Linked DNA regions of Homo sapiens: all the other regions are reported to be linked to region 3. The links are microRNA targets in miRTarBase. Many come from high-throughput screens and were not tested one by one. Region 3 holds a microRNA gene; each other region holds the end of a gene's coding sequence.

Region 1 (5,063 bases), not on the chromosome of region 3:
AAACGGTCCTCAACCCTTACTACACATAAGAAAATTCATACTGGAGAGAAACCTTACAGATGTGAAGAATGTGGCAAAGCTTTTAACCAATCTGCAAACCTTACTACACATAAGAGAATTCATACCGGAGAGAAACCCTACAGATGTGAAGAATGTGGCAAAGCCTTTAAGCAGTCCTCAAACCTTACTACACATAAGAAAATTCATACTGGAGAGAAACCCTACAAATGTGAAGAATGTGGCAAAGCCTTCAACCGATCCACAGACCTTACTACACATAAGATAGTTCATACTGGAGAGAAACCCTACAAATGTGAAGAATGTGGCAAAGCCTTTAAGCACCCCTCACACGTTACCACACATAAGAAAATTCATACTAGAGGGAAACCCTACAACTGTGAAGAATGTGGCAAATCCTTTAAGCACTGCTCTAACCTTACTATACATAAGAGAATTCATACAGGAGAGAAACCCTACAAATGTGAAGAATGTGGCAAAGCCTTTCACCTATCCTCACACCTTACTACACATAAGATACTTCATACTGGAGAGAAACCCTACAGATGTAGAGAATGTGGCAAAGCTTTTAACCATTCCACAACCCTTTTTTCACATGAGAAAATTCATACTGGAGAGAAACCCTACAAATGTGATGAATGTGGCAAAACCTTTACCTGGCCCTCAATCCTCTCCAAACATAAAAGAACTCATACTGGAGAGAAACCCTACAAATGTGAAGAATGTGGCAAATCCTTTACTGCATCCTCAACTCTAACTACACATAAGAGAATTCATACTGGAGAGAAACCTTACAAATGTGAAGAATGTGGCAAAGCTTTTAACTGGTCCTCAGACCTTAATAAACATAAGAAAATTCATATTGAACGAAAACCCTACATAGTGAAGAATGTGACAGATCTTTTAAATGTTCCTCCACTTTTAATTAGCATAAGATAATTCATACTGGAGAGAAACCCTATGAATGTGATGAATGTGGGAAAGCCTTTAACCAGCCCTCGACTCTTAGTAAATTTGAGAGTTTATATGGAACACAAACCCTACAAATATAAAGAATGTGACAAAGCTTTTTAAGGAAGTTCTCAACCCTTATTACACATAATTCATACCAAACAGAAGCCCTACAAGTGTGAAGAATGTGGCAAAACCTATAAACCTATAACAAGTTCTCAATTCCTTTTTTTTTGAGATGGAGTTTCACTCTTGTCACCGAGGCTGGAGTGCAATGACATGATCTCCGTTCACTGCAATCTCTGCCTCCTGGGTTTAAGCCATTCTTCTGCCTCAGCCTCCCAAGTAGCTGGGATTACAGGTGCCCAACACCACGCCTGGCTAATTTTTGGATTTTTAGTAGAGATGGGGTTTCACAATGTTGGCCAGGCTGGTCTCGAACTCCTGACCTCAGGTGATCCACCTGCCTTGGCCTTCCAAAGTGCTGGGGTTACAGGCGTGAGCCACCATGCCTGGCTACAAGTTCTTAATTCTTAAGAGACACCATGCCTGGCTACAAGTTCTTAATTCTTAAGAGACATGGCGATAATTCATGCTGAAGAGGAAATCTGGAAACCTGAAAGATGCGACATTGCTTTTACCAACACCTCCACATTTCCTATACATAAAAATAAATTATACTAGTGTAATACCCTAGAAATGTATAAAATGTGACAAAGCCTTTATATGATTGTCATACATGATTGTAGGTGATAGAAGTCATACTGCCAAAACTCCTGTAAGTGTGAAGAATGTGGCAAAATATTTTATTAGTGCTTATACCTTATTTCACAGGAAAGCTCTTATCCTTGAGAAAAATTGTGCAAATACAAAGAATATGGAAAAACCATTAATGCCTACTCACATCTTACTGAACAGAAGAAGGTTCATAGTTAATAAAGCATTAAAAGTGCAATTACTGTCAAAAAATCTTTCAGAAAATAGAAGTCTTTAAAGTGAAGAATATTTATTCTGAAGACAGCCATTACAAATATAAAGGGGGTTGTAGTGCCTTTACTTGTGTCACAGATCTTAGTGCACACATGTAGTACTAGAGGAAAACCCTGAAGCAGTTGCTCAAGCTTTGTTTCAGGGAATCAAGGGAATTTATATTGAGAATAGTACTGCAAATGTAATGAATGGAAAGACTTTTCTTTTCCAAAAATGACAGCTTAGAAAACACCAGAGGGTTTATACCAAAATATATTTTTGCAGATGCAGTAAATATCAAAAAATATTTAATTCAAAATTGATTCTATGTAAATATCAGAGAATTTTCCATAGAATAATTAAGGCACTGACACTTCAGACATTACACTAAATCAGAATGTTCAGTATAAAAACTAATCCACAGCTACAGCTGTTAGATAAATTATTTCTATATAATTTTTTAAAAAGTGGATTTTTGAAGCACTGTAATTACATTGAAAGTATACTTGTTTTCTTGAAAAAATTTTTTTGAAAAGTGAATAATGATATAATACAGCTTTCACATTGCTTTATGCTATTTTATTCCTATTATATTCACATGTGAAAGCATGTGATCAATTGTTGCTGCATTAGAGATATTAGAGATTGTTTTTTATTAGTTGGGCATTATGTATGACCTTTTCTATAAAAGAGTAAGGACATTAAAATGTAAGATGCATGATGAAAATATAAGTGGAGAGGCTCTTTGTAGTTAACTGATATTAAGTAATGTGTAAGGTGGGGGTTCATGTTCTCATTTCTATAATCCTAGCCAATGACTTAATGTTGATGCTTTGAATGTCTTTTGGATGGTCTAACCTACATTAACATGTATGCGGAACATCTTAAAACTTTTTTTCAAAAATCATAATGAATTATTTTATTAATAAGCAAAGATAAAAAATAAGGTGGGGTTTCAGAGTAATGCTTTTCTACATTATAGTGACAGAAAGAAATTATTAATTATAGTTAAAAATATTAAAATACAGCCAGGTATATTTATTGGTTTAGACAGGTTTTAATATAATATTTATGGTTCTTTAAATATAAAGTTGTATGGGATGGGTGCAGTGGCTCATGCCTGTAATCCTAGCACTTTGGGAGGCTGAGGCAGATGGATCACTTGAGGTCAGGAGATCGAGACCAGCCTGACCAACACTGAGAAACCCCACCTCTACTAAAAATACAAAAATTAGCTGGGCATGATGGCACATGCCTGTAATCCCAGCTATTCAGGAGGCTGAGGCAAGAGAATTGCTTGAACGTGGGAGTTCTCAGATTACAGGTGTGCGCCACCATGCCTGGTTAATTTTTGTATTTTTAGTAGAGACGGGGTTTCACCATGTTGGCCAGGCTGGTCCCATACTCCTGACCTGAAGTGATTCGCCCACCTCGGCCTCCCAAAGTGCTGGGATTACAGGCATAAGCCACCGCACCCTGCCTATTTTTTTCTTACTGAAATTTATTATTAGTATTTGTGGGTATATTGTATGTGTATATATTTATGCCTTATATGGTATATTTTGATTCAGGCATACAATATGTAGAAATTTCATTAGGGTAAATAAGATATCCGTCACCTCTAGCGTTTATCATTTGTATTACAAACAGTGTAATTATACACTTTTAGTGCATAATTTAATGAAGCAGGTGGATTGCCTGAGGTCAGGAGTTCAAGATCAGCCTGGCCAATATGGTGAAACCCCGTCTCTACTAAAAATACAAAAATTAGCTGGACGTGGTCGTGCATGCCTGGAGGCTGAGGCAGGAGAATTGCTTGAACCCTGGAGGGACAGTTTTTTAAATAAGATTAAGGACTGAGGACTGGTTGGGGCTCATAAATGATATGAGTAAAGTGTTAGCTAAAACAGAAGAAAAAGGGGTGCCCAAACAAGTCACCTTAAAATTTGATGCCTGTGCTGTCATTAATAGTAATAAGTTAGGAATAAGGTGTGGTTCTCTTAATTAGAAAAGAGGCTATATGGCAGAAAATAAATACAACTGTCATAAATTAGCACTGTGTGGAAATAAATGTGAACACTGGTCTTGTGTCATTTAGGCCACTTGGATTAAAAAAAAAAATGAAAAAGATCCATCCCACCTTCAGAAAGGAAAAAATGGCCCTTCCTGTACTCAGGGACAATGTAACCCCTTAGAGCTAGTCATAACCAATCCCCTTGATCCTCGCTAGAAAAAAAGAGGAGCATGTGACCTTAGGAATCGACGGGGCCAGACTGGATCCTTGAGTAAATATCTTGGTTCGAGAAGCTTACAAAGACTCTCCTGAGCCAGTGTTTCAAACTTTCTATGATGAACTAAATGTGCCAGTACCAGAAATTCCAGGAAAAACAAGAAATTTGTTTTTGCAATTAGCCAAGCATGTAGCCCAGTCTCTCAATGTCACTTCATGTTATGTATGTGGAGAAGCTGTAATAAGAGATCAATGGCCATGGGAAGCCTGAGAATTAGTACCTACAGTACCTGATGAATTCCTGGCTCAAAAGAATCACCCTGATAATTTCTGATCCTAAAAGCCTCAATTATTAAACAATATTGCATAGCTAGAGAAGGAAAAGAATTCACTCACCGCGTAGGATGACTTAGTTGTCGGAGACAGAAACTGTATAATGGTACCACAAAAACAATCACTTGGTGGAGTTCAAATCACACAGAGAGAAAATTTAGTAAATTCTCAAAGTTGCAAACTGGACCCACCTGGAGTCCCACCGGGACTGGACAGCCCCCACTGGATTATACTGGATATGTAGGCATAGAGCTTATGACAGATTACTGACCAGTAGGCAGGTAGTTGTGTTATTGGCACTATTAAACCATCTTTCTTCCTACTGCCCATAAAAACAGGCAAACTCCTTGGCTTCCCTGTCTACGCTTCCCGCGAAAAGAGAATCATAGCTATAAGAAATTGAAAAAATGATAAATGGCCCCCTGAGAGAATCATACAATATTATAGGCCTGCTACTTAGGCACAAGATGGCTCATGGGGATACCGGACCCCCATTTACATGATCAACCGAATCATATGGTTACAAGCTGTCTTAAAAATAATCACTAATAAAACCAGCAGA
Region 2 (5,063 bases), not on the chromosome of region 3:
ATTTGACATTTCAAGAGCCCAATAGAATTTTTGAGGAAGGACAAGAGGGGCAGCTGTGTCAGAATGCACAGTGGAAGGGGCTCGGGGATTGCATTAGGGACACAGCAAGAATCCAACCAGCCTTAGTCTGAAGTCCAGGAAGTGGAAGGGATATTTACTTACCTTCCTTCCTAACTGGCTTGCCATCCCATGCACAGAAACTTCACATTATACCACTAGGAGGCCTCCATAGGCACAGAGTCTTGCAGCGGGATGGGGAATGAGAAGATGCCAAAGAAACCCAAGACAGGCCGGGCGCGGTGGCTCATGCCTGTAATCCCAGCACTTTGGGAGGCCGAGGCGGGTGGATCACGAGGTCAGGAGATCAAGACCATCCTGGCTAACACAGTGAAACCCCGCCTCTACTAAAAAAAAAAAAAAAAAGAAAAGAAACCCAAGACATCCTCTTTCTGGAAAAGATTCACTAGGATGCAATTTATCAGCACATGTCAGTTATCATCAGGATTTCCTTGCTTATCTAAAGGCCATTTATGAAGTATCCTTCAGGCCCCTGGAAGCTAACCAAAAACCAGAATGAGAGACCAAAGGCCTTGTGATACCCCTTCTGGAGCAGTCAGAGGATTACGAAGCCCATGCGCTAAAGGTGACATACTTTAGCTGCAAGGGAGTCCCTAAAACCCTTGCTCACTGACTGCCTTGTTTTCCCTTAGACAGAGTTTTAAATAATGTGGCTGATTTATCAGTCCATTGCGCATCGAAAGTCATAAACTTGAAGTGGCCAGGGAGGGCTGCTAGGGGCTGGTGCGTTGAAGAGCGATGGTTGCAGCCTGACCACAAATGAGACAACACCAACTCTGAACAGCAACGCAGCACAGGGGGCAACCCCATGCAAGCCAAACAGCTTTCTGCACCTTCCTAGATCAGAGGACACCACTTCTCTGACATGAGACCTGGTCACAAATATTTTGGCTTTCTTGGGATGTTAGGAATGGCCACAGGACGTGCTTTGGCTTATGACACATGAATAGAAATAACGAGAGTCACTCCCGGGCAGAAGCTCTCAGAGCTAGCGGGTGATTCATCAGGCTTTCTTCCTGTTCCACCATGGTGAACAGCAACACTTTCTGATAATGGCAGCTCTACCAGCCTGGATCCTAGAGTGAGGATAAAAATGATGCAGAGCAGAGCCTGCAGCCGATCAAAGAGCACAAGTGGCATGGGCAAGAAATAAACTTTTGTTGCTTTTGGGATTGCCTGTTACCACCATACAACCTAGTCTATCCTGACTGGAACATCCTAAAAGGTTGAACGAGGTCAGCTCACTTTGATTAAAAAGTGTGTGTATTATCTTTTTGGTAGATTACCATTCAAAATAATCAATATTATATTTTGCTGCCTCTAGGATAATTTTCAATTATATGGAAAATTCACATACTCTAGTGTTTGCTGGATAAATGAGTGATTACCAGAACATGAATTGAATGAAGGAAAGGGATCTAGTTTCTGGAACACTCCCTTCACTAGGGAGGCTCCAGGTCTCTTGTTCATGGTTTTGTAAAATTTACCTGTGTTATTTATGGAGCTAAGGTAGAACCTGGGTCTCACATGCTGCTACTGCCAGAACCGGCCTCTCAGCATTTGTGGAATCAGCACAAGGGTGGCGTATGCTCAGGATTGGCCTACGGCTGGTTCTGCAAGTGCTGAGGGTCTCTGGTGCCCATGTGGTAGTTGGAAGGCCCCATTATATATCTGTCTGTGCTCTCATAGAAGGAAATCTATGGGCTCGGCACGGTGGCTCATGCCTGTAATCCCAGCCCTTTGGGAGGCCGAGGCAGGTGGATCATCTGAGGTCAGGAGTTTGCGACCAGCCTGACCAATATGGTGAAACCCCATCTCTACTAAAAAAATACAAAAATTAGCTGGGTGTGGTGGCGTGCACTTGTAGTCCCAGCTTCTCAGAAGGCTGAGACAGGAGAATTGCTTGAATCTGGGAGGCGAAGGTTGCAGTAAGCCGAGATCATGCTACTGCACTCCAGTCTGGGTGACAGAGTGAGACTGCATCTCAAAAAAAAAAGACAGAAATCTATGATGTGTTCTTGAGTAAAAGAGCAAGCCAACAACTTCTTCAGAATATATAGTCTTTTTAAACATACATGGCACATTTACAACATTGATCTCATACTAGGCCAACAACCAAGTTTCAACAAATTTTGAAGGATGGAAACCATATGGGTCATTTTCTCTGACCACAAAGCAATCAAGCTAGAAAAGAAACTATAACTAGAAAAATCTCATGTTTGGAAGGTAGGAAATATACTTTTAAGTAACCCATGGGTTATACATCCTCTCACTTAATCCTCCTAACTATTCATAACGCAGACCCTCATTTTAGAAACGCAGGAGCTGAGATAAGAAAGAGAATACCATTTGCTCAAATTTACCCAGTTGGCAGTGGTGGAGCCAGGACTCAAAACCAGGCTCTGTAACTTTAGAGCCCAGGGCTTTAATGATACCCTTCTTATGCTATGTCTCATGGGAATTCAAAGATCCTCCCTCACAGCCTCAACGATCTGCTGTTTCACCTCTTAGAATGGCCAGTCACTGACAGGTGGAGATCTAGGCCCAGCTTGCTCTGGTGGCCCTGACCATGGGCCATTGTGTAGAGATGCATTTCCCTTTTGCTCTTACCTACTTGGACTGAGGCACGAAGTCTTGAGTAGTGGAGAAGAGAGTTTCAGTTTGATGCCCCCAAATAGCTTTGAACTGGATCCCTAAGAAGACTTCCTTCCTTTTAAAGTTTTTTTCCCACATGGGCCCAAGTAGTAAGCGAACACAGAAGAAAGACAGAAGGAAGTCAATTCCAGATGGCTCTCCATCTTGCTCTACTGCAGATTAAACAGAAAATTCCAACATAACATTAAGCAAACAAGAGTATTAATATCATTCATATTATAAACAGAACAGAATGGAAATTCAGTCTGTATCTGACTTAAATTTGGGGCAAGGGCCTCAGAGCCAGAAAACAGACAATAAAAGCACCCTGATTCTGAGCAAGTTGGAGGTTTATAATATTTGAGGCAAGAAAAAATGACCAAGGTACTCCTAGGCCTCTCTGGGAGTGGCCTTCTGCGTTTTTAAATTTTATTTATTTTAAATTTTTCTTTTTCTTTTTTTTTTTTTTAAGACAGAGTCTTGCTCTGTCACCCAGGCTGGAGTGCAGTGGCGCGATCTTGACTCACTGCAACCTCCGCCTCCTAGGTTCAAGTGATTCTTCTGCTTCAGCCTCCTGAGTAGCTGGGATTATAGGCGCCTGCCATTACGCCAGGCTAATTTTTTGTATTTTTAGTAGAGACGGGGTTTCACCATGTTGGCCAGGTGGTCTTGAACTCCTGGCCTTAAGTGATCTGCCTGCCTTGGCCTCCCAAAGTGTTGGGATTACAGGCATGAGCCACCACGCCCAGCCTTCTTTATTTTTAAGATGGGGTCTCGCTCTACTGTCCAGGCTGCAGCTGAGTTTTAGCTGACCAAACTACTTCTCTGTTGTGGCAAAGGCCTGTGCAAATGGCCATTTAACACTGTTGTTCTGTCATCTTCCCCATCTCAACCTGCTTTTGTTGTTTCCTATCAAGATACACTTAGCAAAACCCCCAAAGACATCCAGAGCTTCTGAGGTACCTCTGTGTACCTCAGTTTTTCTCCCTGTGCTGTGAGAGCCATGCTGTCTGCCACTCTGTGGGCTCACAAGTATAACTTACTACTGTAAGTATAAGTAGTACTATGTTCCATACAATGAGAAGACTTGGAAATAAATAGAAAATGTGATCACGGCTCACACCTAGAAATTTACATAAAGTGCTCAGACTTCAACAAGTGGCCCTGGGGAGGGAGAAGGCTGAGAGGTAGGAAGAGATGGTGTTGGGCTGGGCTAGAGTCTCTGAAGGTAGGGATTTTCATTCTGTCCTTTGGCTTCATCTCTTCCACTGAAGCAGCAGCACTGGCCGGGGGTAAGGGAATGAGCTTCGCTGGGCTGAGTCTTCACATCCAGGCCTCACAGTGCTCAGCCCGGGGCCTGGGTCTCCCCCAGTCCCACTCTACTGCTTGTTCCCCACTCCATCAAGGTCCCAGAAAGTCTGTTTGTCAATCAGCAAGGGATCCCAGTCCCAAAGTGATTTTAAGATCAAATCTAAGATCAAAGTACCCAGTTATCCAAGCAGCAGTGTGATTACACCTTTCAATCTGTGAAAAGGGGTCACGTTGATCACTTCTTGATAGGAGCTCATGGGTGCCCTTGGGTAGCTCCCAAATGAAAACTTGGCTGAAGTGACTTTACAAATGGCCAGTTGTGCCTACAGGCTGGACAGATGGTGGGGGGCCCCTGGGGTGAGCGACGGTCCAATGCCTTCAATAAGGTTGTTCCATTGATTATAGTCTTCTTTCAGGTCTGAAAAGGAAAAAAACAGGAACATTAGGCAAATCATTGTGAGGTTTGGTCAAAGAGTAGCTGACATGCATTGAAGGGGTCATCCTAGAGAGAGGAGCGCCTGGGATACCAAAAGGACTGGTTTTGGTGGGGTTGTGTGGTGGTGGCGGTAACGATAACTATCATTTATTCAGTGCCTTTATAAATGACTTACATAATCCATAACAATTCAATAACGATAATAATAACAGAGGGTAACATTTATTGATGGAGAATTCATTCTAAGGATTGTACTAAATGCTTTACATTCATGGTTTCATTTAATTTTCACCATATCCCTATGAACTAAGTATTAATACTAATCTTATTATGTAATTCAGGAAACTGAGGATCAGGGAAGCTACCTGAGTTGCCCAAGGTCATTAGAGCTATTAAGTGGTAGAGACAGAATTCAAATCCAAGTCAGAAAGGCAGAGAGGGCTGGGCATGGTGGCTTATGCCTGTAACCCTAGTGCTTTGGGAGGCTGAGGCAAGAGGATCACTTGAGGCTAGGAGTTCCTAGACCAGCCTGGGCAACGTAGCAAGACCTCAACTCTACAAAAAAATTAAGAAATTAGCTAGGTATGGTGGTGTGTGCCTGAAG
Region 3 (5,074 bases):
CTCCCCACTCCTTCCCACCTGCCAGGGTGCCCTGGGGAAGTGGCTCGGGCCAGGCCCACGGACCAGGTGCAGACACCCCCACCTCCCCACTCCTCCCCACCTGCCAGGGTGCCCTGGGGAAGTGGCTCTGGCCAGGCCCACGGACCAGGCGGCCTCAGTGCAGGGGCTGGTCCCAGTGTCTCCATGCCCACTGCTGGCATCTGGCCACTCACTGGCCCGCTGTCTCCACCAGCTCCTGGACATGAAGATCTTTGTGGACACAGACTCCGACATCCGCCTGGTACGGCGGCTGCGCCGGGACATCAGTGAGCGCGGCCGGGACATCGAGGGTGTCATCAAGCAGTACAACAAGTTTGTCAAGCCCTCCTTCGACCAGTACATCCAGCCCACCATGCGCCTGGCAGACATCGTGGTCCCCAGAGGTGAGCCTGCTGGGCTGCCTGTTGGGTGGGTGTCGGGCAGGCCAACGGCCCAGCCCCCGGTCACCCGCCCCCCCATCCCGCCCCAGGGAGCGGCAACACGGTGGCCATCGACCTGATTGTGCAGCACGTGCACAGCCAGCTGGAGGAGGTGAGCGGGGTCCCACGTCCCCACGGCCTAGCCCCCAGCCCCTCTACCCACTTCTCCGCTGCCACCACCCCCAGTGGCCTGGTCACCTCATCCCCCTGCGTTCACTGTCCCCTGCCAGGTGCCAGCCCTGAGTGTCCTGAGCCTGCTTGGCCAGTCAGATTGTCCAGCCCAGACCCCATCCCGTTGTGCTGTGCAGGGCCTGGGTTCCCTGAGGAAGCTGGGGTGGGGGTACAGGTGCTCAGGACCCAGCCGAGGGTGCAGCCCGCTCAGCACACCCAGCCTGAGCTTTTGGGAAGACAGGCATGACCTGCTGGCCCAGGATTGTGGGGTTTCACTGCTGAGTCCCACGCCAGGCCAGGCTCCTCTCTTTCTCAGGGGGTCACCCCAGGAGCGACACCCCCACCAGAGGTCCCCTGCTCCCTGAGGCATTCTATGGCTGGGCCTTGGAGCCTGAGTGGCTCTGAACACACTCCCTACCAGGATGTTGAAGGCCTGAGGCCTGCAGAACAGAGCCCAGGGTCCTGGCTCTGATTGCCCCAACGCAGAACTGCAGGTCTGGCCCAGGTGGTCCCCAGGTTACAGGCATTAGAAGCTTGCCACCCCCCATGGCTGGCTGTGTCCCCGCGGGCCTGCAGCATGTCCATTCCTGGGTGGGGGTGGCCTGGCCGCCTGCCCTGGTCACTGACGCGCCACCGTTCCCTTGTGTCTTCCTGTGTTGCTGCCACAGCGTGAACTCAGCGTCAGGTAAGACTTGCACAGCTGTCTGCACAGATGGAGGCACTTCCAACACCTCCAAGGAGCTCTGGGGTCTGGGCTGTGATCCAGCCAGGCAGCTGGCTCTTCCCCAGTCACAGAAGGGGTGGTGTGGAGTGGTCCCAGCCCTGCTTCTGCCTCCCCTTGCTGGCAGATGAGGACACTGAGGCACAGAGACGTGAAGTAGCTTGCCCAGCGTCACGGAGTCCTGACCCTGTCCTGGCCAGACTTTGCTGGAGGCTCCCCTGACTCCTGAGTCTGTCTATGGGATTTGACCCCAGAGAGCACAGCTGTCCTCCTGAGCCAGCACTGCCAGGCCTCTGGGGCAGTGACTACAGACATGTCCCAGCAGCCAGGGAGCCTGCTGTACCTCCTGTGCCCAGCCTCACGGACCAGTCAGCTTTCCCTGGTTGCAGGTGGAGGGCCTCGCGCCTGTCCTCCCACCCACCCGGGTCCTGCTTGCCCCAGCTCTGTCCTCGCAGCCCGCACAGCTCTGCCAGCAGGAACTGGGCAACTGCAGCAAGAAGCTTGGGCTGGGCCGGGGCCGCATCCCACTGTCCCTCCCCAAGGGCAGGCATGCAGGGGGGTCAGCCACAAGGGACCTGCCCTTCTCCCTGCCTTCTGTGGGTTGGGAGGCTCCTGACTGAGCCACCTGGAGGGAGAGCCCTCACATTCAGAGCCCTCCAAAGAGTTTGCCAAATGTTGGAAATGCCTCCAGGGCCCGTCCACCAGCCGTCCAGCTTCCGGTGCCTGCATGAGTCTCCGCTTGGCCCTCTCCTCGGCCTAGGAACCCGCAGGTCTTGTCCCGTCAGGTTCCTCCTGAAGCTTTTGTTCTGAGAGGAAAAACTTTCCAGGGTTTCAAACTTGGAAAAACACCTGAACGCAGCCAGACACATTTTCCGTCGTCTGGTCAGCCAAGGAAGTGTTGGCCTGTGGCTGCACTCACTTCCTTCAGCCCCAGGAAGCCTTGGTCGGGGGCAGGAGGGAGGGTCAGGCAGGGCTGGGGGCCTGACCGCCCACACTCCTCCTCAGGCCTGCGGGGAACGCCCTGCTCCCCAACTAAGCAGCCTTCTCTTTGTTCTCTTCCTTCTCTCTGTAAACCCCCGTTTCCTGCCTTGTTCCCTCCCTGAACATGCTCTTCACCTGGCAAGCAGAGGAAGCTACGTTGGGATATGTGAGCAGTGTGCTCCGTGGTGCTGCTGTGTGACCCGCCTTCCCGTAGCCCCTTGCCCCGCTGCTCCCGCTAGGCCCTCTTTCCTGCTCCTGCCCCGCCCCTTTCCCTGCCGCTGTCACGCCTCTTTTCTGCCCTGCCACACCCCATTTCCGGCCCCGCCCCTTTCCCTGCCGCTGTCACGCCTCTTTTCTGCCCTGCCACACCCCATTCCCGGCCCCGCCCCTTTCCCTGCCGCTGTCACGCCTCTTTTCTGCCCTGCCACACCCCATTCCCGGCCCCGCCCCTTTCCCTGCCGCTGTCACGCCTCTTTTCTGCCCTGCCACACCCCATTCCCGGCCCCGCCCCTTTCCCTGCCGCTGTCACGCCTCTTTTCTGCCCTGCCACACCCCATTCCCGGCCCCGCCCCTTTCCCTGCCGCTGTCACGCCTCTTTTCTGCCCTGCCACACCCCATTCCCGGCCCCGCCCCTTTCCCTGCCGCTGTCACGCCTCTTTTCTGCCCTGCCACACCCAATTCCGTGCCCTGCCTCTTTCCTTCCCCTGCCACACCCAATTCTGTGGCCTGTCGCTTTCCTCTTCCTGCCCCTGCATCACCCCCTTTCCTGCCCCGCCCCATTCCCTGCCCCTGTCATGCCCCTTTCCGGCTTTGCCTCCTCCCTGTCCCACCTCTTTCTTGCCTCCACCCCGCCCTTTTCCTGCCCGCTCCTAGACCTGCTGCTGCCCCGGCCATCCCCAGGCTTGGGCAGCGGGGCGGGACGGGACAGCCAAGAGACACTGAGCCAGCTTTGCCCCCCACCCCCCTCTCTTGAGGGGCCGCGCACCACCTCGGGGAGGAGCCAGGGCGGGGCCTGACCCCACAAAGCTTTAGTTCCCCCGGGGAGAGGCTGGGGACAAGCTACCCATTCTGGGGTATGACACCTATCAGCACGTGTGAGCCCGCCCTGTGCCCGGCCCACTTCTGCTTCCTCTTAGCGCAGGAGGGGTCCCGCACTGGGAGGGGCCCTCACAGCCTACCCCGCTAGCTTTCTGCCTGATGGTGAGCTTGCCCCGTTGTTCGCCGCCATCTTTCGCCTTTGCCTGACAGCTCAGGTAGGGCGACGTCTCCCCCCAGCTCAGCCCCAGGCAGAAGTCAGGCCCGCTCTGCACCTCGTGCTGTGCCTGGCCCGTGTGTTCCCCTCACAGTGACGCACAGCCGTCCTGTGGGGAGGGAGGGCTCTGGGAAAAGACCCCCTTCTTGAGTGTTCCCCATCGGTTTGTCCCCAGGGCTGCGCTGGCCTCGGCACACCAGTGCCACCCGCTGCCCCGGACGCTGAGCGTCCTGAAGAGCACGCCGCAGGTACGGGGCATGCACACCATCATCAGGTGAGGGCCCACCTGGGGACGGGGCGGCCCCGGGCGCGTGCTCCCGCTCAACTGTTGGCCCCACAGGGACAAGGAGACCAGTCGCGACGAGTTCATCTTCTACTCCAAGAGACTGATGCGGCTGCTCATCGAGCACGCGCTCTCCTTCCTGCCCTTTCAGGTTCGTAGCCCGTAGCCCGCGAGGTGGAGGGTGGGTCTTGGAGCCGGTGCGAGCTCCCTGCGCTCACCGGAGTCCTCACCCTGCACCCCACAGGACTGCGTCGTACAGACCCCGCAGGGGCAGGACTATGCGGGCAAGTGCTATGCGGGGAAGCAGGTACCTGCCTGGGCACACCTGGGCGCGGGACAGGCTGCTGGGGCGGGATGTGGGCGCTTAGCCTCCCCTCCCCGCAGATCACCGGTGTGTCCATTCTGCGCGCCGGTGAAACCATGGAGCCCGCGCTGCGCGCTGTGTGCAAAGACGTGCGCATCGGCACCATCCTCATCCAGACCAACCAGCTTACCGGGGAGCCCGAGGTGCCTGGGGGCAGCCGGGGTGATGAGCCCGGGGGTAGGGGGCAGAGGGAGCTCACAGCAAGGGGACGCAGGGAGCCCCACCTGCAGCCTGACCCCTGCTGCCCGCAGCTCCACTACCTGAGGCTGCCCAAGGACATCAGCGATGACCACGTGATCCTCATGGACTGCACCGTGTCCACGGGCGCGGCGGCCATGATGGCAGTGCGCGTGCTCCTGGTGAGTGAGCCCTGGGTAGGCGGGGCAGGTTCAGGCAGAGGTGGGATTTACCTGCCCAATACACTCGGTAGGACCACGACGTGCCTGAGGACAAGATCTTTTTGCTGTCGCTGCTCATGGCAGAGATGGGCGTGCACTCAGTGGCCTATGCATTTCCGCGAGTGAGAATCATCACCACGGCGGTGGACAAGCGGGTCAATGACCTTTTCCGCATCATCCCAGGCATTGGTGAGGCTGCCCGGGCCCTTCAGCCGCACATGAGGGCAGGGTGGGTGGCCCTGGGAGGCCCCACCACACTGGACCCCCCCCCCCCTTTTTCCAGGGAACTTTGGCGACCGCTACTTTGGGACAGACGCGGTCCCCGATGGCAGTGACGAGGAGGAAGTGGCCTACACGGGTTAGCTGCCCAGTGAGCCATCCCGTCCCCACCACCCTCCTCCTGCCTCCTGACCCAGGACTGCTGAATACAAAGATGTTAATTTTTA

What was found. Region 3 holds the annotated microRNA hsa-miR-1914-5p (CCCUGUGCCCGGCCCACUUCUG, at 3,435-3,456, shown strand). A microRNA usually pairs through its seed, bases 2 to 8, with sites in the 3' UTR of a target mRNA and lowers its output. Matches are read on the target gene's strand: a 7mer-m8 pairs with bases 2 to 8, a 7mer-A1 pairs with bases 2 to 7 and ends in A, and an 8mer does both.
Region 1: miRTarBase lists ZNF253 as a target of hsa-miR-1914-5p. Seed matches in the 3' UTR shown: 7mer-A1 at 1,799-1,805.
Region 2: miRTarBase lists PAFAH2 as a target of hsa-miR-1914-5p. Seed matches in the 3' UTR shown: 7mer-m8 at 3,699-3,705 and 7mer-m8 at 3,553-3,559.

The regions. Positions count from the first base shown.
Region 1 is chr19:19,891,791-19,896,853 of GRCh38, forward strand. ZNF253 (zinc finger protein 253) reads left to right here. Exons shown (of 4, transcript NM_021047.3): 4 at 1-2,884. The coding sequence ends at 957. Among named protein-coding and RNA genes, the nearest start is that of ZNF93, 6.6 kb to the right of the region's middle.
Region 2 is chr1:25,957,643-25,962,705 of GRCh38, forward strand. It overlaps PAFAH2 (platelet activating factor acetylhydrolase 2), which reads right to left. Exons shown (of 11, transcript NM_000437.4): 11 at 2,125-4,441. The coding sequence ends at 4,347. Among named protein-coding and RNA genes, the nearest start is that of PAFAH2, 38 kb to the right of the region's middle.
Region 3 is chr20:63,939,893-63,944,966 of GRCh38, reverse strand. MIR1914 (microRNA 1914) reads left to right here and starts at 3,423; the gene lies at 3,423-3,502. It overlaps UCKL1 (uridine-cytidine kinase 1 like 1), which reads left to right. Exons shown (of 15, transcript NM_017859.4): 6 at 233-422; 7 at 509-570; 8 at 1,298-1,314; 9 at 3,759-3,857; 10 at 3,924-4,017; 11 at 4,111-4,173; 12 at 4,251-4,373; 13 at 4,482-4,589; 14 at 4,661-4,817; 15 at 4,912-5,074. The coding sequence ends at 4,991. It overlaps MIR647 (microRNA 647), which reads left to right and starts at 2,241; the gene lies at 2,241-2,336. RefSeq lists enhancers at 1,224-1,935, 1,936-2,649.